2 linked regions of the Homo sapiens genome follow. The protein of the gene in region 2 interacts with the protein of the main gene of each other region in a pairwise test. Each region holds a gene or a part of one and is shown on either strand. Other genes may lie near its edges.

What was found. The genes of interacting proteins can lie anywhere in the genome.
Region 1: the proteins of IRF4 (region 2) and GIPC2 interact in binary tests that used the Homo sapiens proteins (3 or more experiments, as listed by UniProt).

The regions. Positions count from the first base shown.
Region 1 is NC_000001.11:78,118,966-78,125,965, forward strand, and holds part of GIPC2 (PDZ domain-containing protein GIPC2), read left to right. Parts: intron 1-427; coding exon 428-534; intron 535-6,915; coding exon 6,916-6,997; intron 6,998-7,000.
Region 2 is NC_000006.12:387,205-394,802, forward strand, and holds the start of IRF4 (interferon regulatory factor 4), read left to right. Parts: upstream 1-4,547; 5' UTR 4,548-4,605; intron 4,606-5,893; 5' UTR 5,894-5,948; coding exon 5,949-6,164; intron 6,165-7,598. UniProt on the Homo sapiens protein: Transcriptional activator. Binds to the interferon-stimulated response element (ISRE) of the MHC class I promoter. Binds the immunoglobulin lambda light chain enhancer, together with PU.1.

The DNA of each region.
Region 1 (7,000 bases), on a different chromosome or scaffold from region 2:
TTTTTTCCTTTAAATTTTTTTTTTGTTTCTTCTTTTTCTATTGGTCCATTGGGAGAAGAAACCTCTCTTCTTTCAAGACATGATTCTTTCCCTTTTTTTGTGACTTTGATGAAACCACTTACTCCTCTTTACTCTTTTTGTAGAGCCTACTGTTTTTTCTTCCTTGTAACTTTGTCTTTCCCATCTGTACATTTCACATATTCCCTTTTCTTGGAGTTAGAACTCTCTCATAAAGACTCTCTTATAAGAATAATGGATGACAAGTACATTTATTTTGCTTCGGGAAATTCTATAAGAAGGCCTACGTTTTATCAAATTTCTATAACAATTGTATATAGTTTTGTGATAGAAACTACATTAGCCTTCACAGTAATCTGTTGGGATGCTTTCTGTGTATATGTATGTTTCCCTGTTCATTGTATTGTAGAAATAGAGCTGAGGTCAAAGGCTGGAAAGTCATCAGGAGAAAAAATTGGTTGTGGAAGGGCAACACTTCGCCTGAGATCAAAAGGTCCTGCCACCGTGGAAGAAATGGTATGTTATGTTCATTTACTTCCTGTTCTGCTTGGAAATGTTGAGTTAGATAAAATTCCATTCATTCTAACCAAAACTTGGACTTTTAATTCACTGTCTATTTAAACAATCTGGAAATTACTGAAGGTATTTAAAAAGGAAATATAGAAATTAAGGACATGAGAAGAGATTGTGATCTATAGAAATTCTCAGTTACCTGTAGGTGACGTTTCTAGACTCTATAGACAGCTGGACTCTCTCAAAAACTTAAGTCAACCAAAGCTCTCTGAGAACCAAGAAAATGTTTCAGAGCCACCTGTAGGAGTAAACAAAAGAAGATATTGATAATGAAAGATTATATTCGTAAACTCCTCTTCTCACATAAAACACCTGTAGTCATCTTTGACTCTTTTCGTTCATGTCCCATGTCGCTTCCATCAGCAGATCCTAGTGGATCTACCTCTATAAGATACTGGAGTCCAATGACTTCTTACCACCCCTGCCCACCACTGTGCCCCAAGGCACCATCATCTTATCCTGGATTTTGCAATCACCTTCTGTTTAGTCCACCTGTGTTCACCCTTGCCTTCTTTCCACCTGTGCTCAGCACAACCCTCAGAATGATCCTTAAAATATGCAAGAGAAATTATGTCACTTTTCTGTTCACAACCCTCCAGTGGCTTCCCATGACACTCAGAATAAAACCTAAAGTCCTCAGAATGACCAACATGACCGAACTCCGTATTTCTTCTCTGTTCTCATTTCCCATCCCTTTGCCGTGGCTTCCTCTGCTTCAGTCATGCTGATCTCCTTGCTGTTCCCAAACACTCCAGGTGTATCCCCATCTCAGGCTCTCAGTACTGCTGTTGTCTCTGCCTGAATGTTTTGCCCATTTATCTGCATAGCTTGCTCCCTTGCCATCATTAGGTTTCTGCCCACACATTATCTATCTCAAAGGCCTTTCCCGAGCATCCTGTATAAACAGCAACTCCCTCCACCCCTCCCACTGCCCACTCTTCCATGTCCTTAATTTTTGTCAAAGCAATTGTATTAGTCTGTTTTCACACTGCTAATAAAGACATACTTGAGACTGGGTAATTTATAAAGAAAAAGAGGTTTAACGGACTCACAGTTCCACATGTCTGGGGAGGCCTCACAATCATGGTGGAAGGTGAATGAGGAGCAAAGGCACGTCTTACATGGCAGTAGGCAAGAAAGCATGTACAGGGGAACTGCTCTTTATAAAACCGTCAGATCTTGTGAGACTTATTCACTATCATGAGAACAACGGCATGGGAAAAACCTGCCGCCATGATTCAGTTACCTCCCACCGGGTCCCTCCCACAACATGTGGGGATTATGGGAGCTACAATTCAAGATGAGATTTGGGTGGGGACACAGCCAAACCATATCAGCACTAAACACACTAGGACTCTATATCTTTGATTAATTTTGTCTACTGTCTAGCTCCTTTGCTCACATGTCTTGTTCACTGCTGCATCCCCAGCACCTAGAATAGGACCTGATATACCAAAGGAATGGAAATCTTTGGTGCATTAATGAATTAGTAAACGATTCCTTTTAGTTTGAGAAAAGCAAGGATTTTTCCCTTTGAATGACTTTGTCTATATATAGGTCAGTGTTTGAGTGAAAAACACCAGAAGGAGAAGTGACAACTAGAGGCAAGAAGGGTGGAGGAAGAAAACTGCAAGTTTGGGGTGGCGATGGTAAGGATTCCAAGTGGCAAGCAGCAGGCCCACAACAGCAGCAAAGGCATGGGGGTCAAAGCCCTCCCGTGGGCAGATGGGATGTCGAGCAGGTGACTGATGCCTGTGAGCTCGGGGGGGCAGGGGCAAGGCTCTGGGCCCTTCTAGGGTCTCTCTGTATGTGAATGCTGTCTGGGTTCCTATGTGTTTGAAGGGAAAAACAGACAGATGAACAGTTTTGAGGCTGTTTCACAGAGTGGGATCTCAGAACTTGTTGGGTGACAAGGTCCAGGGTTGGTCATGGGGGTGGTTTGTTGAAGTAGACACTTAAGGAACACATGAGGCCAAGGCTGTCCTTAGGAATGTCGAGGCACCCACGGTGTTGTCAGTTTTGGGGGGATCTAGAGGAAGATCCTGAGTCAAATGCGTGGGTTCTGGGAGAATGAAAGGACCGATCAGAGGCAAATGGCAACGAAGAGATCTGATAGAGCAAAAAGTGTTTTGAAAAGGAGATATGATGAGGTATGTGAAGGAAACCCAGGGCAGTGACTTCTGGGCATTTGGAGCCTTTATTTTCCCTCTGTGGCCCAGCACACTGCCTGGTATATTGCTGAAGGCCAGTAAGTGTTTATTGAATGAATAAGCAAATCTCAGTGGAAGAAAGGAATTTATCAGAGAAGGGAAGAACAGAGGGAAGTTGCTGGCTGTGAGGAGCCAGGAGAATGTCAGCTCTGCCTTTTGCTGGAGGCTGTGAGGAAAAATGAGCAGACCTTTAAACAGCTCACAAAGGAAGCAGGTCAGCAGGAAAAATGCCACGTCCCTTCAGGAGGAGGAGCATCTTCTAAGGGTTAAATCATTCGTCACTCTTTGTTAAGCACCTGCTGTGGCAAAGGTGCCTGAATGGAAAAGGAGCAGCTTAAGATCTACCTGGGGAGGTAGGAAAGATTCATTCAAAGATAAACATCTAAAAATCTATTCCTATTTTCATAGTCTGTTTAGTAAAATAGGGCAATTAAAAATAGCTCATAATGAAAGGAAAAAGCTGTTTGGTGCTAATATTAAATTTGATACAAATGACATAAAATCTAATTTCAAACACTTTAAGAATTTAAAGGACTTATGGGATTTAAAACAAATCACTCCTTTAATCACCTAGCACAAATTCTGAAAATGGTGTAAGATTCTCTGTATTAGTCCGTTTTCACACTGCTGTAAAGAATACCTGAGACTGGGTAATTTATAAAGTAAAGAGGTTTAATTGACTCACATTTCCGCATGGCTGGGAGACCTCAAGAAACTTACAGTCATGGCAGAAGGTGAAGGGGAAGCAAGGCACGTCTTACATGGTGGCAGGAGAGAGTGAGTGTGCAGGAGAAACTGTCGCTTTTGAAACCATGAGATCTTGTGAGAACTCCCTCACTATCACGAGAACAGCCTGGGGGAAACCACCTCATGATGCAATCACCTCCCACCAGGTCCCTCCCTTGACACGTGGGGATTGCAATTCAAGATGGGATTTGGGTGGGCACACAGAGCCAAACCATATCAATTCTCCACTTGCATAACCTCATACTTTATTCAATATGTGCTTGCTGAGACAGGCACAGTCTAAGTGCTGGTGATACAAAGAAGAATAAAAACCCTGTTTCTCTTCTAAAAGGAGAGAAGCATGAAAAGAAGCTATTACAACCCAGTGGGATAGGGTTAATGGAAGCAGGTGCAGGATACACAGTGTCACAAAGAAGGGGCTGATCAGCCATTGACAGGGATTGGGGAAAGAAAGGAGGTCAGAAGGCTGGGTGCAGTAGCTCACGCCTGTAATCCCAGAACTTTGGAAGACTGATGTGGGTGGGTTACCTGAGGTCAGGAGTTCGAGACTAGCCTGGCCAATGTGATGAAACCCCATCTCTACTAAAAACATAAAAATTAGCTGGGCATGGTGCTGGGCACCTGTAATCCCAGCTACTTGGGAGGCTGAGGCAGGAGAATCACTTGAGCCCAGGAGGCGGAGGTTGCAGCGAGCCGAGATTATGCCATTGCACTCCAGCCTGGGTGACAGAGTGAGACTCCATCTCAAAAAAAAAAAAAAAAAAAGGGTCAGGAAGTGTTTCTCTCCGGAAGAAATTAGTGAGTGAGTTCAAAATGGGGAAGAAGAGTGTTCTAGGCATGGAACAATAATGGGTTTTGGGGACCTGTAAGCTGTTCATGAGATTGGAGTGTGGGGTGCTGGAAGTACTGGTTAGGTAGGGGTGATGAGGCTAGAGGCATAGGCTGGGGTTAGGATATGAAGGGCCTTGTGGATAATGAGGGAGCCATTTAAGAATTATGAGGGGAGTAACACAATCAGTTTTGTGTTTTAGAAAAATCCCTTGGTTCCAGGGTATGGGTTGTTGAGCAGCTTGGATTTGAGAGGGTGAAGACCAAAGGCAGGGAGACAAAATAGGAAACCTCTGCAAATCAGAAAAGATGAGGACTAAACACTGGCAAACAGAATGTGGATGGAGAAGAGGTGATAGATCCAGATCTGTTCCGTAGCAAATAGGAAATATTAGAATGGTAAAATATTGGTGGCCATTTGGGTATGAGGAGTACTGACACTTGTCACCGTAACTTAAAACGTGCCTGGATAGATATAAAGGTTAATACCTGTTAATTTGCATAGCCTGTTGCTTTATACAGACAATTCAAGATACATTGTAATGAAGGCAAGAGCAATATATTGTCTGTTATTGTTTTTAAGGTTTAGTTCTTGTAAATAAAAATGTGAGAAAGTTGTATTAATATCTTCAAGGAAATAGATTTTTATTTGCTATAAAATGCATGATTTTAATAAAATTTGAGACTACAAAACAACATATATTTATAACAGTATTGAAAGTAACATGAAATTCTTATAATCTAAATAATGAATTCTACATTTGCATGTATAGTTGAGTAGTTAACATCTTTGGGCAATTCCATTTTCAGCTATGATGCCATTTAAAGCCAAGTATTGAAATAAACTGAGCAGAATTTACCAAATATTAAACCAAAAATTTAAAATAATATTTTTACTGAAATGTTTAGTAATCATTTCGGGAAGAACAAAAATGTTTTGGTACCATTAATACATAACACAAAAATGATTTAAAAAGTATTATTTTATCATCTCATTCTTATAAAATTTCCTTTTTTGGTGTATTTTTATAATCTATACAATATATTAATATGGTAATACATGTGTAATTGATAAGCAATACATACAATAAAGTTAAAAATACACAATAAGGGTATTTGTTCAGAAAAGTTTTACTATTGGGATGAGCCATCAAACGTTTGGAGACCCTGGCCTGCACCATAAAGACCAAAGTCCTTTTCATGGTACACAGGACTCCTCAAGATCTAGTCATATTTGTCACTGTGTTCTCCAGCTACATGGGACTTCTGGCATCCCTCTAACATGACTCTGTGACCTTACTTAGACTTTGCCTATCTATTGCATCCTACTTGAAGTGTCCTCTCCTGCTTATCTCCTCTTCATCATTGAAAACACAGTTCTTGGCTGGGCGTGATGGCTCATGCCTGTAATTCCAGCACTTTAGGAGGCTGAGGTGGGCGGATCACTTGAGTCCAGGAATTGGAGACCAGCCTGGCCAACATGGTGAAACCCCGTCTCTACTAAAAAAATACAAAAAATTAGCTGGGCATGGTGGCGCACGCCTGTAATCCCAGCTACTTGGGAGGCAGAGGTTGCAGTGAGCTGAGATCACACCACTGCACTTCAGCCTGGGCAACAGAATGAGACTCTGTCTCAAACAAAACAAAACAAAACAAAGCAAGACAAAAAAACCCCGCCACAGTTCTTAAGACATCCTTCTTTTTCTCTGAGACAGGGTCTTGTCCTGTTGCCGGGTTGGAGGGCAGTGGCAGAATTATGGCTCACTACAGCCTCGTCATCCTGGGCTCAAGTGATCTTCCCACTTTAGCCTCCTGAGTGGCTGGGACTAAAGGTGCATACCACCACACCTGGTTACTTTTAAATTAAATTAATTAATTAGTAGAGATAGAATCTTGCCATGTTGCCCAGGCTTGTCTAGACCTCTCAGGTTCAAGTGATCCTCCTGTTTCAGCCTCCCAAGTGTCTGGGATTACAAGCATGTGCTACCACACCCAGCTAATTATTTTAATTAATTAATTAATTTTTTTTGTAGAGATGGAGTCTCACCATGTTGCCTGGGCTGGTCTTGAACTCCTAGGCTGAAGCAACTCTCCCACCGTGGCCTTCCAAAGTGCTGGGATTACAGGTGTGAGCCACTGTGCTCAGCCAAGTCACCTTCTTTCTAAAGTCTTCCATGACTGTTAGAGATATAAATTTGCTTCCTCCCCTGTGATGCTTCTGTGCCTTTTATATCCTTTAAAAACTGTTACATGTTATTTATTTTCACATCTGTTTCCTCTTCTAGATTGTTAGCTACTTGGGGATTGTGTTCCTGGCTTTTCTTTTTTGAATCCGTAACACTTAGTGCTGACACTAGAAATAAGTATTTACTGTATTGATTTGTATTTAGTTACAGAGCACATTCTAGATCTATTTCCATTAAAATTAGCTGAAATACACAATTATGAACCGGCTCCACATCAGGCTTTCTCTTGTGTATGCCCTGACAATCAAGAGATTTTGTTGTATAATATCTTATTTCTCTCTTTTTTGATAAAGCCTTCTGAAACCAAAGCAAAGGCAATTGAAAAGATTGATGATGTTCTTGAGTTGTACATGGGAATTCGAGATATTGATTTAGGTA
Region 2 (7,598 bases):
ATACACTCCTCTATCCAGCATGCCTAGAGTCTTATGTGTGACAAGTGACGGTATGCTGTTTCACAAAATTTCGCTGAAAGAGCCGTTGATGAACTTTAGAATAACCCAACATTAGGCGCTGTTACAAATGGGTGGAATTAGACAAAGCCGTTTGCCTTTCACCTCTTGCTTCAGTTTTCAGAAAATTGCCCAAAGGTATTGCAAACCATTTGCGTTTTCATTGGCTTGGTTAAGGAGTTGGCAGTGTCAACTGGCCCTGTGTAAAGCCACGTCACTGTTTCTGTAGAGAGCATGACACGTCAGAGAGGTGGGAAGTGTTGCCAGGACTCTTCTTAGAATGCTGGCAAGAAGAGCAGGCGAAAAGGGAAGAGCTGTTTATAAACAGGGAAAGGAGACATCACCTCGTATCCTTGGCTTCTCATTACGTCATCGATTACAATCACAAGTCTCATTTCCTACAAGCCTGAAAGCGGGTTCTTCTCTGCATGTAGGAAAAAGCCCCGCTTACTAACTCTGCCCTCAAAGAGATCACAAGCTGGTCCTGAACGCCCTGTGCCCTGGGAATGCTTACTGTCGAAGCTCTGCAAATTTTCTCATTGAAGGCACTCAGGGCATTCTGCTAATTAAATTAGGAAAATGTGTACAGCTCTACTTGAAAAAATCCAGGTTTATGCTCTGTATTCTATTACCAAAGAATTTATCACTTTTCAAATAACATTCAATTATTTTAAACTGAGTGTGCAGTGAGAGCATTTATAATATAATCTCATTTCCAGAGTGTTCCATCCCAACTCCTCTCTGGTATAAGTAGCTTAGAAGGTTAGATTTTTTTTTTCCAGAGGATTAAACATTCGAGAAGAGTGGCTAAGAGGCAGCACCAGGTTTCTCTCATTTCCTCAAAGAGAATTTAGCCTTGTGAAGAAGAATAAAGTGAAGGTCAATGGTTAGATCCATGGCTTAAAAATAAAATGCAGCTTTCCTTACTCTGAATTTACCATAACCAAAAAGGCCACGAGGCAGCCATTAATGATCCTAAGTTGCAACAGAAAGAAAAAAACACCTACTTAGGGTTAAACGAGGATTCAGTGGTCACTTGCCGCCGGCCTCCACTTCACAGGGGCGGAGGATGAGGCCAGGGAAGACTTTCTTACCCACACTGACCTGACCAGAGATGAAACTCCCCCTCCTATGACAGCCTGCACTCAGAGGCTGATTCTGAAATAGTCATGCCAAATGCAGCCAATCCCTGTGTACAAGGAGAAAAAATAGTTCCTCAGAGCTGTGTCCTTGGGCCAGCCATCTGGACCTCTCACAATCTCTTTCGTTCTCCCTACACTTGGGCTGAATCCCGCCTTCCTTGCCTGCCAGGTTTGGTTTGGGGGCCAAATGAGTGAAAGTCCGTGAGATACCCCTAAGTATTGAAGTGCGTAGTAAATGATAATAGCCCTGATTTGTTGAACATGATGATGTGCCAGGCATTGCGCAAAGCATCATTTCATCATCACAACAAACACTGCTGGGAGGCAGGGACACCCCCACCCTCCTTGTACACCCAGAAGTAGGACTTTGGTTAAATGGCTCTCCCAAGGCCTCACAGCCTTAAAAACTCAAGCACTTATTTAATCCCCAATGATACTACCTTTTGGCCATGCAATGTGTCATGGCCAGTAATTAGATTTGCAAACACATATAACCAAAGAGGATTAGAAGAGACATATATTCTATATAAATTACATGAAAATAGCACTTTCAGTATTTTCCTGATTTTTTCTGGTAATTAAAAATGATTGCCCTTTATATTTCTTTATGGATACAGTTGCATTGTTTTTAGCCAATTGTAGCCCCCCCCTTTAAAGAGTGAATTAGTGGGAAAATAGTGTTATCCAAGATTTTAAGAATCTAGTGTGTGTGTTTGTGTGTGTAGGATGGGTTTTTCTGAAATATTTTACTTGCATGTGAATGTATAATTTTAAAGATTGGCTTTTAAAATACTGAATTGAGGTAAATTCAGCTTTTCTTGCAGACTCTTTACGATAAATGTGAAATTGAAAATGGAAATGCTCCATTCAGATGGTGTGCCGACTACAACCTCAACATACGGATAATTCACTAAATAAGTAACTTCCTCGTGGAATATCACGGTCAGCCTTTGTTTTGGGTACACATTCAATGAACTGGTTTCCTATTAGTTTCTGCTTGTCAACAAGTTGTGTCATTTACTGATAAATATCCAGCCTTTTACTAAGGAATACCGATTTTCTCAAGTCTCAGTGTGTGGAGGGGGTGGGAGTTTGGTGGGGAAGCTTTTCAATTTGAGAACCTTTGCCGTTTTTTGTTTCAATCGTGACTAAGATATAAAAGTCCTTGGTCACCACTGCCAGCTGCTACCTGTTCACTGCCTCCCTGACGGGTAATGAGGCCATCCGGAGTTTTAGTGATTAAAATGTTTTATTACTTGTATTCACATCATCATTAAGAAAAATAACTTCTAGTGGATCAATATGGCAAATGAGTAAACCAGAAGATGGCGTTGAAGATTAGCAATTACATTTAAAAACAAGGTAGTGGTGTGAAGGCTCAGAGTTTCACACAACGACTGTTGTTCTGAACTAAAAGCAGAGGATGTGGATGAGTGAGGGGAGGGTATGTTGAAAATGACTAAACCCGGTGCAGAGGACACGTATACGAAAGTGCAAAAAGCTCTCATTTGCCATTTTTTGTCCTCAGCAAACTCCTCTCTGGTATGTTTGTGAACGTTTGAGGGAAAGGTAACACTGATTAAAATATAATGCAACAAGAAGGCAACGATCTTTGCTTTGTTCACTGATGTGTTCCAAGTGCCTAGGACGGTTCCTGACAAGTAGCAGGTGCTCAAAATACATTTGTCAAGTGAATAAATCTGTGAAAGGAAAGGAAGAAAAACAGGTTGTGACCAGAACTTTTTGTGAACAAAACCCTGTTGTTTATTACATAGACTTTGGTAATGGAAAACTTACTTGGGTGAAATAAAAAATGGCATCCTGTTAATTTCTGAGAACGTCTGTTGGTTTTAGGAAAAGCATACCTATCCATACCTCACTACCTGTTTTGCTCTAGCCTAAACATAGATTCTTCTTTGGTTAGGAGACATTGACCCAATATATAAGATTAAAACAAAAACTGAGAAATAAGTGAAATCAAAAGCTTTTCAAAAGTTGCAGGTTGACCTACGGTGGTGGTGGTCTAAAATCATATAGAAACCAGAGATCTGATGGTTTACCTGAAAATGCGAAGTAAATGCACATACTCAGCATCTCAGACGATCGAAAGCTCAACGGGTGAAAGCTCAGGGGGTTAATTTTGCGATTAAGGACATCTTGGAAAAGTATGTAAAATCCCTGGTCCACTTAAGTATTATTCCTATTTTGGGCTTTTATTTATTTATTTTGAGATGGAGTCTTGCTCTGTCGCCCACCTCGGCTCACTGCAACTTCAGCCTCCCGGGTTCAAGCGATTCTCGTGGCTCGTCCTCTCAAGTAGCTGGGGCCACGCCCGGCTAATTTTTGTATTTTTAGTAGAGATGGGGTTTCACCGTGTTGGCCAGGCTGGTCTCGAACTCCTGACCTCAGGCGATCCACCGCCTCGGCCTCCCAAAGTGCTGGGATTACAGGCTTGAGCCACAGCGCCTGGCCTATTTTGGGCTTTTATACCCCACTGGTAAACTGCTTTCCTCCAGGTTGAGGTTAAAACGACATCATTTTAAGGTGAACTGAAGTCTGGAAGTGATTAAGCACTTGGATCCTTAGGGAGCCTCTCCCCGCCCCCATCTCTTTCATGCTAAGATAATTAAAACTTCGGGGCCGGGGCATTGTCTGAGTCACTTCAATTCACCAGCCTAATAGATGCAAAAGGATGTAAGCATGTCAGACACGCAGAGACAGTATTTGAATCAAGCTTAATAGCTCAAGGGAGCTGGGCCATTTCCTATTTTCTTTTTAGTGAGTGCGATGTTCTCTAAACACCGCGGAGAGGCAGGGTTCCCGGTGATGGCCTTGCCGAGGGTGCTCCCGCAACCTCCACCTCCAGTTCTCTTTGGACCATTCCTCCGTCTTCCGTTACACGCTCTGCAAAGCGAAGTCCCCTTCGCACCAGATTCCCGCTACTACACGCCCCCCATTTCCCGCCCTGGCCACATCGCTGCAGTTTAGTGATTGACTGGCCTCCTGAGGTCCTGGCGCAAAGGCGAGATTCGCATTTCGCACCTCGCCCTTCGCGGGAAACGGCCCCAGTGACAGTCCCCGAAGCGGCGCGCGCCCGGCTGGAGGTGCGCTCTCCGGGCGCGGCGCGCGGAGGGTCGCCAAGGGCGCGGGAACCCCACCCCGGCCGCGGCAGCCCCCAGCCTTCACGCCGGCCCTGAGGCTCGCCCGCCCGGCCGGCCCCGGCTCTCGGCTTGCAAAGTCCCTCTCCCCAGTCCAACCCCCGGCCCCCACAGGCCTCGGCGCCCCGCCCCGCCCCAGGCCCCGCCCCAGAGAGTTCTATAAAGTTCCTCTTTCCCACCTCGCACTCTCAGTTTCACCGCTCGATCTTGGGACCCACCGCTGCCCTCAGCTCCGAGTCCAGGGCGAGGTAAGGGCTGGAGTCGGGCAGGAGGAGGGGTGTGAGGCTGATACCAGAGAGGACCCGGAGCGCGAACCAGAGGTTCGACCTCCAGGGCAGCGCAGGGTACCCCGGCTTCGGAGCGGGAAGGGAGCGCGCCCCGTCCTGGAGCTCCGACTCCCACCCCATCTGCGCTGAGCCGGAGGCGCTGGTTTGGGCTCCAAGGCCCGCCTCCTTGGCTCTGCCCGAGCCTCCCCGCCTGCCCTCCGCGCTCCTGCGACGGGGTCGCCACAAGCTGGACGGGATGAGCTAACCGGACTGTCGGGGCCCCAGGAGTGGCTGAGGCGGGGCCGTCCAAGGCACCCACACAAGACGGCACAACTGCCTGCGAGAAACAGGCCCGGCCCTGTGGACCCCAATCCGAGGCTCCTTCCCCTGCTCTTCGTTCCTAAGGGGCCCAAGCTCACGGCGGCCTCCGGCGCGGTGCTCACCCGCTGGCGCAGGAGGAGGAGGAGCTCCACATTTGGGTCGCTCCGAGCCTTGCGTGCGGTGGCCTAGCCGGCCTGGCGCGGTCCCTGCCTCCCAGGCTCCGCAGCTGTCGTCGCCCTCTCCCGCGCCCTCCCCGCCTCCGCTCTCCCGGGCCTGCTCCGGGGTCCGGCGGACGCTCTGCGCGCGGAATCCCCCGTACTGGGGCTGCAGCCCCCGCGTCTGCGCCACTTGTCGTTTGCAGAGCCCACTTAGTGCGCGCTAGCTGGGCAGGGATAGGGGTCCTATTCGGGGCGAAGGGTCTGGATGCGAGCAGAGAAAGCGGAGGGTGGAGGAACCCGGGGCTGCGCCCCTGGAACGCCCGGCCGCAGGCGAGGTCCTCCGCGCGTGGAGGCCGCCAGGGGAGTGGAAACTGACAGAGTCGCGGGGAAGGGGCGAGAAGCGGGTTGGGAGTGAGCGAAGGCAAGCGAGAGCTGCGAGTGAGTGCGGAAGGAGGGCCAGGAGGGGTGGCGGCTGGGTGGGGAGAGAGGGTGCAAGACGAGCGGCGCGTGTCGGGAGCCTTTGGGCTGCGGGTGCGTTACAGGAGAGCAGGCGGGTAGGAGCCTTCGCGGGGGCCGAGCTCGGAAGGCGGACGGCTGTGCCCGCCCAGGGGATGCGCCCGGGCCGGCCGCGAAGGTGCCTTCTTCCGGGGGCCCGGACGACCCTGACACGGCACGCGCGCGCTTCGCAGCCTCAAAGACTCCGGGGCCTCGTGGTCACTGGCGCAGGGGATCGGGGCGGGGTGCCCGGAGTGCGGTGCCTCGTGGCTGAAGGGCAGCTCTTCTCCCCGCAGTGCAGAGCAGAGCGGGCGGAGGACCCCGGGCGCGGGCGCGGACGGCACGCGGGGCATGAACCTGGAGGGCGGCGGCCGAGGCGGAGAGTTCGGCATGAGCGCGGTGAGCTGCGGCAACGGGAAGCTCCGCCAGTGGCTGATCGACCAGATCGACAGCGGCAAGTACCCCGGGCTGGTGTGGGAGAACGAGGAGAAGAGCATCTTCCGCATCCCCTGGAAGCACGCGGGCAAGCAGGACTACAACCGCGAGGAGGACGCCGCGCTCTTCAAGGTCTCCGGCCTCGGGAGCCGGCGGGGGCGCGCCGGGGAGGGCCCAGAGACAGAGCCCGGGGTCCCCGGCGCCGCCTCCGAGGCGAGCCCAGGGGACCGCGCGGGGCGGACGGGCGGGCGGCGGAGGCATCAGGTGGCGTCGCCGGAGCCGCAGGAGGAGGAAAGGAGGCCTCGGCTCTCAGCGGGACCGCGGGGGCCGGGAGCCGGGTCCTGGGCGCGTGGAGGCTGCAGGGAAACCGCTGAAGGCCCGGCCGGGCCCGGGGAAGGGCGGCCAAAGGCTTGAGGGGTTTTGCGCGTTCGTCCGTGCGTTCTCGTTTCCACGCAAGCCTCCCGCCCTTCCTCCGGGCTCCCGTCTGCCGCCTCCGTCCGTGGGTCCCCCTCGCCCTCTCCGTGCGTCCGCGCCTGTGCCGGCGGCTGTTTTCGTCTCTCACCGCGTCTCTGTTTCTCTTTTCGCTGCTTTTCTCTCTGAGTCTCTCTCTCTCCATGTTTTTCCTGAGGTCAGCCTCTCTTCTCGCTCCTGCTAGCTCTCTGCGGGTACTCCCACCTCTGTCTTTCTCTTTGTGTGTCTCTGTCTCTCTCTTTCCCCCATCGCAGTGGAACTCAGGGCCTCTGTCTAGAGCTGTCTCCCTTGCCCTTTGCGCGAGTGCACACACGTGTGTCGTTGTTACGATTGTTCTCCCCTAAGGCAGTTTACCCAGAGAACTACGTGTCTGGGCCCAGCCCCCACCTGTGGGCAGAGCAGGGGAAGGGGACTTCCTCCGGGAATTTGGTCTCAATTTGCTCTCAGAGTGCCTCAGCTGTGCTGCCATCCAGATGTCTCCTGTGGGTGACAGCTCACACCACAGCTGTCCTTAGTCCTAGGCAAGCTCACTCAGACACTGGGTGGGTAGAGCCCCCTCAAGGAACCTCCGCATCTCACTCTACCGGTTATAAATACCCAGAAAATGTGTCTTCAACTTGGCAGTGATAGGGTCCAAGATGGAAAATCATTTTCCTAGAGCATAGCTGGGGTCTTTCAGTTTACGTTCTGAGCAACGGTGTAAATCTGAAGGACCTATGCGCCATTCTTTCTTTTAGAAATACAATTTCAAGATTCCTTATAAAATATCTGTATTTTGGGTTTAGCATGGTGGCTCACACCTGTAATCCCAGCACTTTGGGAAGATGAGGTGGAAGGATGCCTATGCAACATAGTGAGACCCTGCCTCTGCAAAAAATAATAATTAAAAAAATTAGCCAGGCATGGTGGTGAACACCTGTAGGCCGAGGGCCCAGCTACTCTAGAGGCTGAGATAGGAGGACCCTAGAACTCAGGAGTTCGATGCTGCGGTGAGCTATCATCGTGCCACTGTACTCTAGCCTGGGCAGCAGAGCAGGACTCTGATTCCAAAAAGAAAGCTAATAAACCAGACATGTATTTTGACTTTTCGTTCTC